Linked DNA regions of Homo sapiens. The protein of the gene in region 3 interacts with the protein of the main gene of each other region in a pairwise test. Each region holds a gene or a part of one and is shown on either strand. Other genes may lie near its edges. The genes, in order: URM1, RGS14 and VIPR2.

The links.
Region 1: the proteins of VIPR2 (region 3) and URM1 interact in a protein complementation assay, tested with the Homo sapiens proteins (one large-scale study listed by IntAct).
Region 2: the proteins of VIPR2 (region 3) and RGS14 interact in a two-hybrid assay, tested with the Homo sapiens proteins (one large-scale study listed by BioGRID and IntAct).

The regions. Positions count from the first base shown.
Region 1 is NC_000009.12:128,381,374-128,385,025, reverse strand, and holds part of URM1 (ubiquitin-related modifier 1), read right to left. Parts: intron 1-3,652. UniProt on the Homo sapiens protein: Acts as a sulfur carrier required for 2-thiolation of mcm(5)S(2)U at tRNA wobble positions of cytosolic tRNA(Lys), tRNA(Glu) and tRNA(Gln). Serves as sulfur donor in tRNA 2-thiolation reaction by being thiocarboxylated (-COSH) at its C-terminus by MOCS3.
Region 2 is NC_000005.10:177,370,391-177,373,129, reverse strand, and holds the end of RGS14 (regulator of G-protein signaling 14), read right to left. Parts: intron 2,543-2,739; coding exon of another isoform or gene 2,540-2,542; coding exon 2,466-2,539; intron 2,226-2,465; coding exon 2,099-2,225; intron 1,966-2,098; coding exon 1,884-1,965; intron 1,781-1,883; coding exon 1,734-1,780; intron 1,656-1,733; coding exon 1,541-1,655; intron 1,258-1,540; coding exon 1,055-1,257; 3' UTR 534-1,054; downstream 1-533.
Region 3 is NC_000007.14:159,110,276-159,113,927, reverse strand, and holds part of VIPR2 (vasoactive intestinal polypeptide receptor 2 isoform 1 precursor), read left to right. Parts: intron 1-3,652. UniProt on the Homo sapiens protein: G protein-coupled receptor activated by the neuropeptides vasoactive intestinal peptide (VIP) and pituitary adenylate cyclase-activating polypeptide (ADCYAP1/PACAP).

The DNA.
Region 1 (3,652 bases), on a different chromosome or scaffold from region 3:
CTGCCCAGGCCTGTGCTTCCATGTGTCTCTGACTCAACACTTGAATCACGATCCAGCTCAAATGTATGGCACTACCATTACCATTACTTGAGTGGACAACTGGGGAGGTAGGGAGGGAAGGAGGGAGGAAGAAAGAGACTAAGAGTATGGACCCTGGAGTCAGACAGGCCTGGTTTTGAGCTGGACTCCATCACTTACTAGTTCTATTACCTTAGGTAATAGGAAGCCTCGGCTTCCTTTTTTTGTAAAATGGGGATGTTAACATTGTCTCATAGGGTCATTGTGGGGGATCAAATAAGACGATATATACAAAGCTCTCAGCACTGTGCCCTGCATATCAATGCTGTAATTACTCCAGGATCCAGAGGAAGAACCTATACCCCTCGCGCTCTCTGGGTTTCTGCACGCTCTGCCCAGTGGCCTGGCACCTCAGCTTTAGAGGGCAAGGTAGAGCCAACCATTAATCAGATAGTGCTGGGACCGGCTGGGGTTTTCTGTGGCATCCCGTATCTTCCCATCAGAAGCTGGAAAGGGAATGAGGGGACTGCGAGAGTAGTGAGGGGTCCTAGATACTGACCTTCCTTCTGTGTTAGATGTTTGAACCCACAAGATGTTGGGGTTGGCCAATGCTCCCAGTACAACCCAGGTGGTAGGAATGACACTCTGAGTCTGTAGGTGCTGGCGGCCAGGCTGCCCCCGGGCACACAGCACCAGAGGAAGGAGATGGGCACTTAATACAAGGTTTCCAGTGCAGGATACCTTGGCACCTGGCCTGCCCATCGGGGGCAGAGCAGGCAATGAGAGCTGCTGCTCTATGCTGGAGTGGTTGAGTTCTGAGTCTACAGCCAGAGGACCTCGGCTGTGTGCTCGATGGCCTTAGCTAGGAAGTCACTTCATCTTGCTGTCTCAGTGTCATCCTCTGACAAGCAGGGATAATAATCCAAACACCAAGAGCTGCTGAGGATTACGTAAGGCACAATGCCCAAGGCAGGCCTGGCAGTGTCACACACACAGGACACGCTCAACAGATGGCTGCTCTGAGCTGTAAGCCCACAGTGACTTCAGATTCCTCATCCTCTGGGCTCCAGTACCTTCTAAAGGCTGCTGCCAAAGGGAGGATACCCACTGTGGAGAGCACCGACGCAAGCTCCACCAGAATCCCTCGCCCCGGTGGACTTGTCCTATTCTGGGGGACACTGACTGCCCACTGTGGGAGGGCCCCAAAGGGTGTCAGCCTCAGCCTCGTGGGACTGAAACGGAACAACCTCAAAGTCGTATCTGATATTGACTCGCAGGCGTAACAGACCCTCATCCAGCCTCTCTTTGAACACCTCCAGGGACAGGAGGTCAGCTCCTCTGTGGAGCGGCTCTGATTGTTAAGAGCTCTTTTCTCCCAAGCAGAAATCTGTCTTCCTGTCATTCCCACCCACTGGGCCTGAATGGTCCACGGGGACCATGCCAACAAATGCACCCCCTCTTCCCCAGGATGGCCCTTCAGATTTGGAAGAAAGGATCCCCTAAGTCTTCTCTTCCACAGGTTAAACTGCCTCTGTCCCCACCAAGTCCACCAGGCTCCAAGACGGCTCTTCGGAGAGCCCACCCCAGGCCTCAGTTGAAAAGGGAAAAGAAAGAGCTGGCAAGGGGGGAGTAACAGAGGAGAGGGGGTGGAGGGAACATCAGAGGGGCCATTTACAAGTGAATGGGGGTAAGAATGGAGCAGTTTGTGGGCTAAACTGGCCTCAGAAGGAGGTTTACAGATGTGCGAGGGGACCTCCTCATTGTTTAATTAAGCAGAAAGTGGATCTTTTCAAAAGCAATTTTGCACAGGGACTGGGAGGGGTGTGGGGAGGAGGGAGGTGGAGAGGGGATCAGCAAACAGGCCCTGAGAGCAGAGAAAGGAACAGCTGGCCCCAGAGAGGCTGTGAAATGCATGCTAAGCAGTTTAAAGCGCCCAGGAGCTCCTGCAGCTCCTGCCCTCCCTCACCAGCCACCCTTTAACACAAGTGGAGCAGGCAGAGGGGGCACAAAGGCAGGACAGGGGAAGACAGGCAGGGAAAGGTGAGGCGGCCATGTCTACACTTGGGGCCTGGGCAGGGGGCCTTGGGTCAAAGGGATGCTTGAATCACAGAGGCCAACTCCCAGCAGCCGCAATACCCTAAGCTGGTGGGTGCCTGCATGGCCGTTTCAGCGAGATGGCTGTTAAGACATCCCTTCTCTCACACAACTTCTTACTGGGTCAGCACACTCTGCTTCACCGAATTGTATATACTTGGATCTTGAAGAAACTTTTCTTATAGATGTCAAAGAGACAACCAGCTCAATAACATACAGAGCGAGCCCAACCTCCCATCTTACAGATAGGGAAGAAAGAGTCTGGCAGGAATAAGTGATGTGCAACTGCGCGTGCCAGGCTTCCTCTCTCGCAGTCTCACTCCCTCAGGCCTTGCTCATCATTTCTCCCAAATTGGCTGGGTTGGAAGCTCTCCCCTGGCCTAGGAGCCACGAGTTCCCTCATTTGTGAGGCTTGTCACATTCTGAAATCTTACGGCTGCTATTATTTCTGCTGGAACCTCCAAGACTCGCTTGGCCAAGTGGCAGCCCCTAGGCTGGGAAGTCTGCCAGATGACATATCTGGGCATGGACTTGGGGGAAGGGTAAGACTCTCCTAGCAGCACCAGGCCCCTGACCCCCAGCTGGGCTCACATGTGCCAGGGTGAGGCCTGGCAGCTGCTAACCAGCTCTGTTGGTGACCTAGGTCACCAACCTAGGTTACCATGGGTCTGCTGTGTGACCCATGCCTCTGGGCACAACAGGAACCAGGTGTAGGGACTCACAGCAAAGGAGCCAAAGACTAAGTGGGCCATTGTGCCTTCCCTCCCACTCCCCTCCTTTCTTCCCAGAGTGGGGATAGGCCCCTGCCTGTTCCCTGAACAGTGGCTGGAAGATGAAGGATAAAAAAATCTGAGTCCCAGCCCAGCCTCCCTACTTGGGTAACTCTGGGCAGGCCTCAGGTCCCTCCCTCCTTCTCTTTCTCTTTTAGGGGTCTCTTATCTCTTGGGGTCATCTGAAAGTTGAAATAAGTAGTTGTTGAACTCATGAATAAATAAATGAAGGAAAGCGTAAAAACTGGAAAATGTAAGATGTTAGAGTAATTCAGGGAGCCTCTTGGGATAGACGGTGATGGGTTAGTGGCAAAGCGCCAGGACTCTGAAATTCAGTGGCCTGAAAGCTAGTTCTGAATCCCAACCCTGCTATTTAAATAACTCTATGACTTGGGGTGAGACCCCTGACTTCTCTAAATTTTGGTTTCTACCTTTTATTTGTTTTGTTTTTTGTTTTTGAGACGGAGTCTTGCTCTGCGCCCAGGCTGGAGTGCAGTGGCACGATCTCGGCTCACTATACAACCTCCACCTCCAGGGTTCAAGCGATTCTCCTGCCTCAACCTGGGATTACAGGTGCCCACCACCATGCCCAGCTATTTTTGTATTTTTAGTAGAGACAGGGTTTCACCATGTTGGCCTGGCTGGTCTCTAACTCCAGACCTCAGGTGATCCGCCTACCTTGGCCTCCCAAAGTGCTGGGATTACAGGAGTGAGCCACTGCACCTGGCCTTGGTATGTTACCTCCTTAAAGAGACCTCTGCTGACCACCT
Region 2 (2,739 bases), on a different chromosome or scaffold from region 3:
CCTCTCCCCGCCCTCTCTCTCACCTCCACACCATGACAGGTCTCACTCTGTCATCCAGGCTGGAGTGCGGTGGCACGATCTCGGCTCACTGCAACCTTCGCCTTCCGGGCTCAAGTGATCCTCTTCCACCTGTCTCCCAAGTAGCTGGGACCACAGGCATGCACCACCACACCCAGGTAATTTTTTGTATTTTTGGTAGAGACAGAGTTTTGACATGTTGCCCAGACTGGTCTCAAACTCCTGAGCTCAAGCGATCCACCCCCACCCCCCTTGGTCTCCCAAAGTGCTGGGATTACAGGTGTGAGCCACCTCACCCAGCTCCCATATTCTTAAAAAAAAAAATACTATAAGATATTCACACACCACCCCATATACTGTGCAGTCAGGAAGAGAGGTTCTGAAAACAGGAAGTCAGGAGGCACATCCTGAGGTCCCCAAGAGTTTCCTGGCACTGACCTTGGTGACAGAAGTAGTGTGTTTTGAGGGTGGGGGAAGCCACAGGACAGTCTGGCACACAAGGAAGACAACTCATGGCAGAATAATAATAATTATTATAATAACAGTATCATACATCAAGGACAAACCCAGCTGCCCCAAGCCTACTGCAAAATCTGTATGTACAGTATAGTCTATGTGGGTGGGGTACAGGGCTGCCTGCCTGCACCCTCAAGGCCTTACTCATACCAGCTTCCTGAGGAGGGGCCGGCCCCTCCTCTTGCCCCTGTTGAAGCTTGGCACAGGCTGGGGAGGCTGGCACTGCCAACGCCATCCCTCCATGTTGGGCAAGCCTGTTCCAAGGGGCTGGACTCACCTCCCCCATTGTGGCCTGGCTGCAAGGGATTGGGGGTGAGCTTGTTGAGGGACAAGGCGGTGGCAGCTGTGGGGTGTGTCTCATCTGAGTCCCCTTTCCACCCCTACCGGCTCTTCCTGCGGGCCTGCCCATGGCAGGAAGGGGCCAGGGACACTCATGGCACAGACAGGGCATGCAGAGCGGACCCATGGCATGCTCGGCCCGCCGGGTGCCATGCAGCTGTCCTGGACTGTTGGGTAGCTGTCAGAGGGCTGAGTCGGTGGTGGAGTTCAAGGATCCCCCGATGGGCTGGGCTGCTGATTTGGTCTGTGGTGGGGTCTCCTCGGAGCTGGGCCCTTGGGCGGGCAGCTGCAGAAATTCTGGAAGTACCAGGTCCTCTTTCCTCAGAAGGCCCCTCTGGTCGTGGGCCCCGCTGCTCTGCACCCGGTTCAGCAGCTCCACCAGGCCTGGAGGCAAGCCACAGCATGAGGGTCCCCCCAGCAGACCTGCCTATATGCCAGCCCACGATAGTCCCACTGCCTTACTGTGGCCACTGCCTCCCTGGCCCCAGCACCAATGGCCTGCGGCCCCCTGTTCCAGCCCCTTTGACCCCCCAACCCCCATCCTTCCTGTTCCACGCCCAGTGGCACCCAGCCCCCTGCCTTAGCTCAAGGCTCTCTGATGCCACCCTGAATGGTCCCCAACCCCACTGCCCTAGTCTTTCTGATCCCCAGCTCATCCACCATGTACCTTCGATGTCACAGGTCTGCCGCTTTCCAGTGGCACTACTGGGCACCTTCACCAGAGAACTGGGGGACGCTGGAGGGGGATGGGTGGCCTTATCCTGAGTTCTAGGTGGGCAGCCCTGCGAGAATTTGGGGTCAGAGCCAAAATCGGGAGGGGAGAAGCAGAGGGTGGAAGAGGCCACTCGCCTTTCGCTCACCTGGCTGCGGCAGGGAGATTTGTCACGGGCTTTGGAGATCTTCACACCTGCAGCAGAGAGGGCCACAGTTAGTGTTTGCCTCCCACCTGGACCCCCTTCCTCCTGGGCCACAGCTGTTCCAGATCAAGCCCCGAGGCCAGCGTCCCCTACCTGGAAGAGTGTCCAAAACCAGTCTCTGGGCCGCCACCGAGCTCACTAGCTTCCCCAGATCCAGAGGCTGTTTCTCGCCTGGCTGTGGGGAGAGGTCAGCAGCCCGCGGTACAGGCCTCCGCCCGGCCCCGGCCCCGGCCCCGGCCCCGGCCCCGGCCCCGGCCCCGGCCCCGGCCCGGCCCCGCCCCGCCCCGCCCCGCGGCCCGGAAGCTCACCCGGTGCAGCACCACCTCTAGCGGGCTCAAGCCGTGCTTCTCCAGAATGGGCTGCAGCGCCTCCTGCAGCCGCTTGGTGGGCTTGGCTGAGATTCGTACCACGCGCTCCAGCGCCGTCAGCTCCAGCCTGCGAGGAACCCTCGGGCAGCAGAGGGCCGGAGGGCCGGCCCCCCGCCAAACCCTTCCCAGGACAAACGCGAGGGGGTGGAGCTTGAACTGCAGAAGGTGGGACTGGCTTGTAGGGGGCGGGGTTTGTCCCAGGGGCGGGGCTAGCACGAGGGGCGGGGCCTGGGGAGCCAGGTAGCTAGAACAGGGCCTGAAGGGAGCGTCAGGACCTGGGACCCAGACTTGGGGGCAGGACACTCACTCGAAGGTGATCCTGTTTTCCAGCCGCACTTCCTGATCCGCCAGCACGGTGCAGTCCTGATCCAGGACCAGGGCCTTCTGTGGATGCCAGGCAGGGTCTAAGAGTCCCTCCCCCAACCCCCAGCCATCCCTGTGGGTCTGAGAACAACTTCACGCCCTCCCATGGCCACCACTGGGCTTCCTAGAGGAAGGGATGGAGGGTGGAAGAGCTGTAGGGGAGCAAATGGGTTAAGGTACCAAGCTGGAGTCCAAGCCCAGGAAAGCCAAGGCCAGGG
Region 3 (3,652 bases):
CATCTCTTCTCTGGTATTTATTTTATTTCTAAACAGCATACTTATGCTCCTGTTTCTTTTCTTTCTTCCTCCCAATTTACATCCCAGTGTCCATTAGATTTCTAACAAGAATAAAGATCTATCTCTCCTGTGCCATTCCCACCACCCAAGTATAATTTATCATCCTGCCAGCCTCCTGATAGACTCACTTCACATTGCTGGTGTACATCATTGCCATCACAGTTGAGCCACATAATATCCAGCATTTCCTTTCTTCATAACTTTATGCTTTTCCTCGTTTTTCTGTTGCTGGGTTTTTCACCTACCTCTCAATAATTAGGCATCAAACCTCAGGCCAGAACACTCTCAAGACACTGCACTGAGGTGGTCTCAGGGTTCCATTTTTTCTCTTGTAGCAGGACGAGCTGCAGACAAAACCCCTCAGACACCGAGATGGTGAAGGGAGTGGCTTTAATCAGCTGGAAGCATTGGCAGACTAGCGTCTTAAAATCCGAGCTTGTCAGGTGCACAATTTTTGTCCCTTTTAAGGGCTCACAACGCTAAGGGTTTCACATGAAAGGGTCATGATTGATTGAGCAAGCCAGGGGGTATGTGACAGGGGCTGCATGCACGGGTGGTCAGAGTGAAACAGAACAGACCGGGAAGTTTCACAGTGTCTTTCTATACAATGTCTGCAATCTATAGATAACATCAGTTGCTAGGTCAGGGGTCAAATTTTAACTACCAGGCTTAGGTCAGGCAGGTCCAGGCCTGGTGTCGGGTCTGGTTCCTAGGCGCTGGGCTACCTGCCTTTAGTTTCGCTTCTGTTTCCTTTTCTGAGTATAAAACAATCTAAAACAATGTGAGAGGGTCTGTCTCTCTTCTCTCACTCCTAGAGCCACTCCTTCTGGATTCCCCCTCCTTGCCAAGTCGGGATCCTTGAGCTGGGGTCTGGCCCCAGGCAGGCATTGTGAGCCTCCTGCTCACACAGTCGGGGTCCTCGGTTGGGGATCTGGCCCCAGGAAGGCGCCATGAGCCTCCTCCTCACGGTCAGGATCCGGTCCCAAGTAGGTCCCGTGAGTCTCCTCCTCACAGTCAGGGTCGGTCCCAGGTAGGCGCCGTGAGCCTCCTCTTCACAGTCGGGGCTCTCAGCCGGGTCCCGTCCCAGGCAGGCGCCATGAGCCTCCTTCTCACAGTCAGGGTCGGTCCCAGGTAGGCGCCGTGAGTCTCCTCCTCACAGTCAGGGTCGGTCCCAGGTAGGCGCCGTGAGCCGCCTCCTCACAGTCGGGGCTCTCGGCCGGGTCCCGTCGGTTCCCTGCAGCGTCCTCCACCCTTGCCGGTGCCGGGGGTACCGATGGCCTGTCTCTCGCTTCTCCCCCTCCTCTGCCTGCCTATTTAACACAGTTGCTTCTGTCTGCAAGGCTGTAGTGACATCTCTTGGTGCTGCCCTTTCAAATTTTTGGCTGTCCTTTGCGTGAGGTTGAGAAGCTGAGAGAGAAACTCCTGTGTTCCCGCCTGGCAGCTGTTGCCAGGAGGTTGCAGCCAGTGCCACGTGTGCGACCGGCACTGTGGCAGCGCTTCCGGCTGCGCCTTCGGCTGCACTTCCGGCTGCTACCTCAGCCTCGGCGCCCTGACGCCCTCGAGTCCGCTTCCTCACATCCTGACAGCGTCTAGCTCTGCTCCCTCACGTGCGGTCCAATAAAGGAACAAATGAAGAGAAGACTTTCCCTGGCCATTGAAGGGATCAGATGATTAGCTCTAGATGTTTAAATCAAATCCTACTGTAATGCAAAGACTGTTTGATGTGGTATGAATTTAGTATCTCTGTTGAAATTTAAAGCAGCAATTAGTATTATACAGTATATAATTATTGCATTATAATTTGTATTATGTATTAGTTATCTTACTATACATTATCTTATTTATTGTTTATTTATTGAGACGAGGTCTCGCTCTGTCGCCCGGGCTGGAGTGCGGTGCCATGATCTTTACTAACTGCAACCTCGACCTCCCAGGCTCAAGTGATCCTCCCACCTCAGCCTCCCTAGTAGCTGGGACTATAGGCATGCTCTGTTACCTCCAGCGAATTTTTAAATATTTTCTGTAGAGATGGGGTCTCGCTATGTTGCCCACGCTGGTCTTGAAGTCTTGGGCTCAAGGGATTATCCCGCCTCAGCCTGCCAAAGTGTTGAGATTACAAACATGAGTCACTACACCCAGCCCATTATTTTAAAATAACAATATTATATAATTATTGCTTTTTTTTTTTGAGACGGAATCTTGCTCTGTCACCCAGGCTGGAATGCAGTGATGCGATCTCGGCTCACTGCAACCTCCACCTTCTGGGTTCAAGCAATTCTCCTCCCTTAGCCTCCTGAGTAGCTGGGATTACAGGTGTGTACCACCACACCCGGCTAATTTTTGTATTTTTAGTAGAGACGGGGTTTCACCATGTTGGCCAGGCTGTTCTCACACTCCTGACCTCAAATGATCCACCAACCTCATCCTCCCAAAGCGCTGGGATTACAGGTGTGAGCCACCACACCCAGCCATTACTATTATCAAGGTAGAAATTTGTCATTTTGTGATAAAAAGCTGAACCTTCAAAATAACCAGACACGAAACTGCCAGAGCTTGCTGTTTTATAGGAGATGGACAGAACTTTGCTGATCACATGCAGAGTCTTCACTTGGAGGCCTAGACATCTTCACTTTCCTCTCCATCTTGTTCACTCTTGGCTAGGAACCCCATCCTGACACCTCTCCACCACCTGCCCTACACACCAGAGTTAGAAGTGCTTGGTTTACGAACTTAGCATTTAAATAACTCTACTACTTAGACTCTAAGCAGCCTTACACGGGGGCTCACGCCTGGAGTTTCTAGTGATGCATTTACATTTGATCACTTGTTTTGAACATTTTAAAAGAAAACCAACATTTTCTTTAAATATGTTAACATTAATGTAATATGAATTTATGTACTTATTCAAGTATTGGTATGTAATTTTATTTTATAATAAATATATTTTCACTTTTATTGAAAGTATTTAGAAACTATTTTCATCTGCAAAACTTAGCTTATGGCCAGCTTTTCAGAGACATTTCTGTATTCTTGAAAGTAAAACACTCCTTTGTTCACACCAAAGCTGTGTGTTCTCTATGGATGTATTCCTGCAATTATTGCACAGGTCTGGGTGGCATGTGCTGAAAGGAAAACTGATTGTTTGTTTGTTTGTTTGTTTGTTTGTTTGTTTTACCGACCAAGGCTAGCACATTGCTTTTCTGATACTGAGGTTTAAGTAAAAGGTAAAATTTTAGAGGTCTCAAATATAGTATAAATACCATGGACAAGTAGGAAAGTCCTGGGTTTAACATGCATTCCATCACTGTTGTGTGATATTGAGAATTCATTAAAAGATTTGAACCTTAGTGCTTTTCATCTGGAAGATAATTAATGCAACATTTTTATATCTAACCTTCACCAGGTGGTTATTAAGACCAAATAGTAGGTCTAAAAATGTTTAAGCTATGCATTATGCAAATTATTTGACAACTCCATGAAGGTAACCTAAGATTTTGTTGCTAATAAGGCATCTTGACAGTGAAAAATCAAACAAATATTATCAAATACTTTTATTTGCAAATAATCATTGAAGTCAGATTCCACAGAAGCA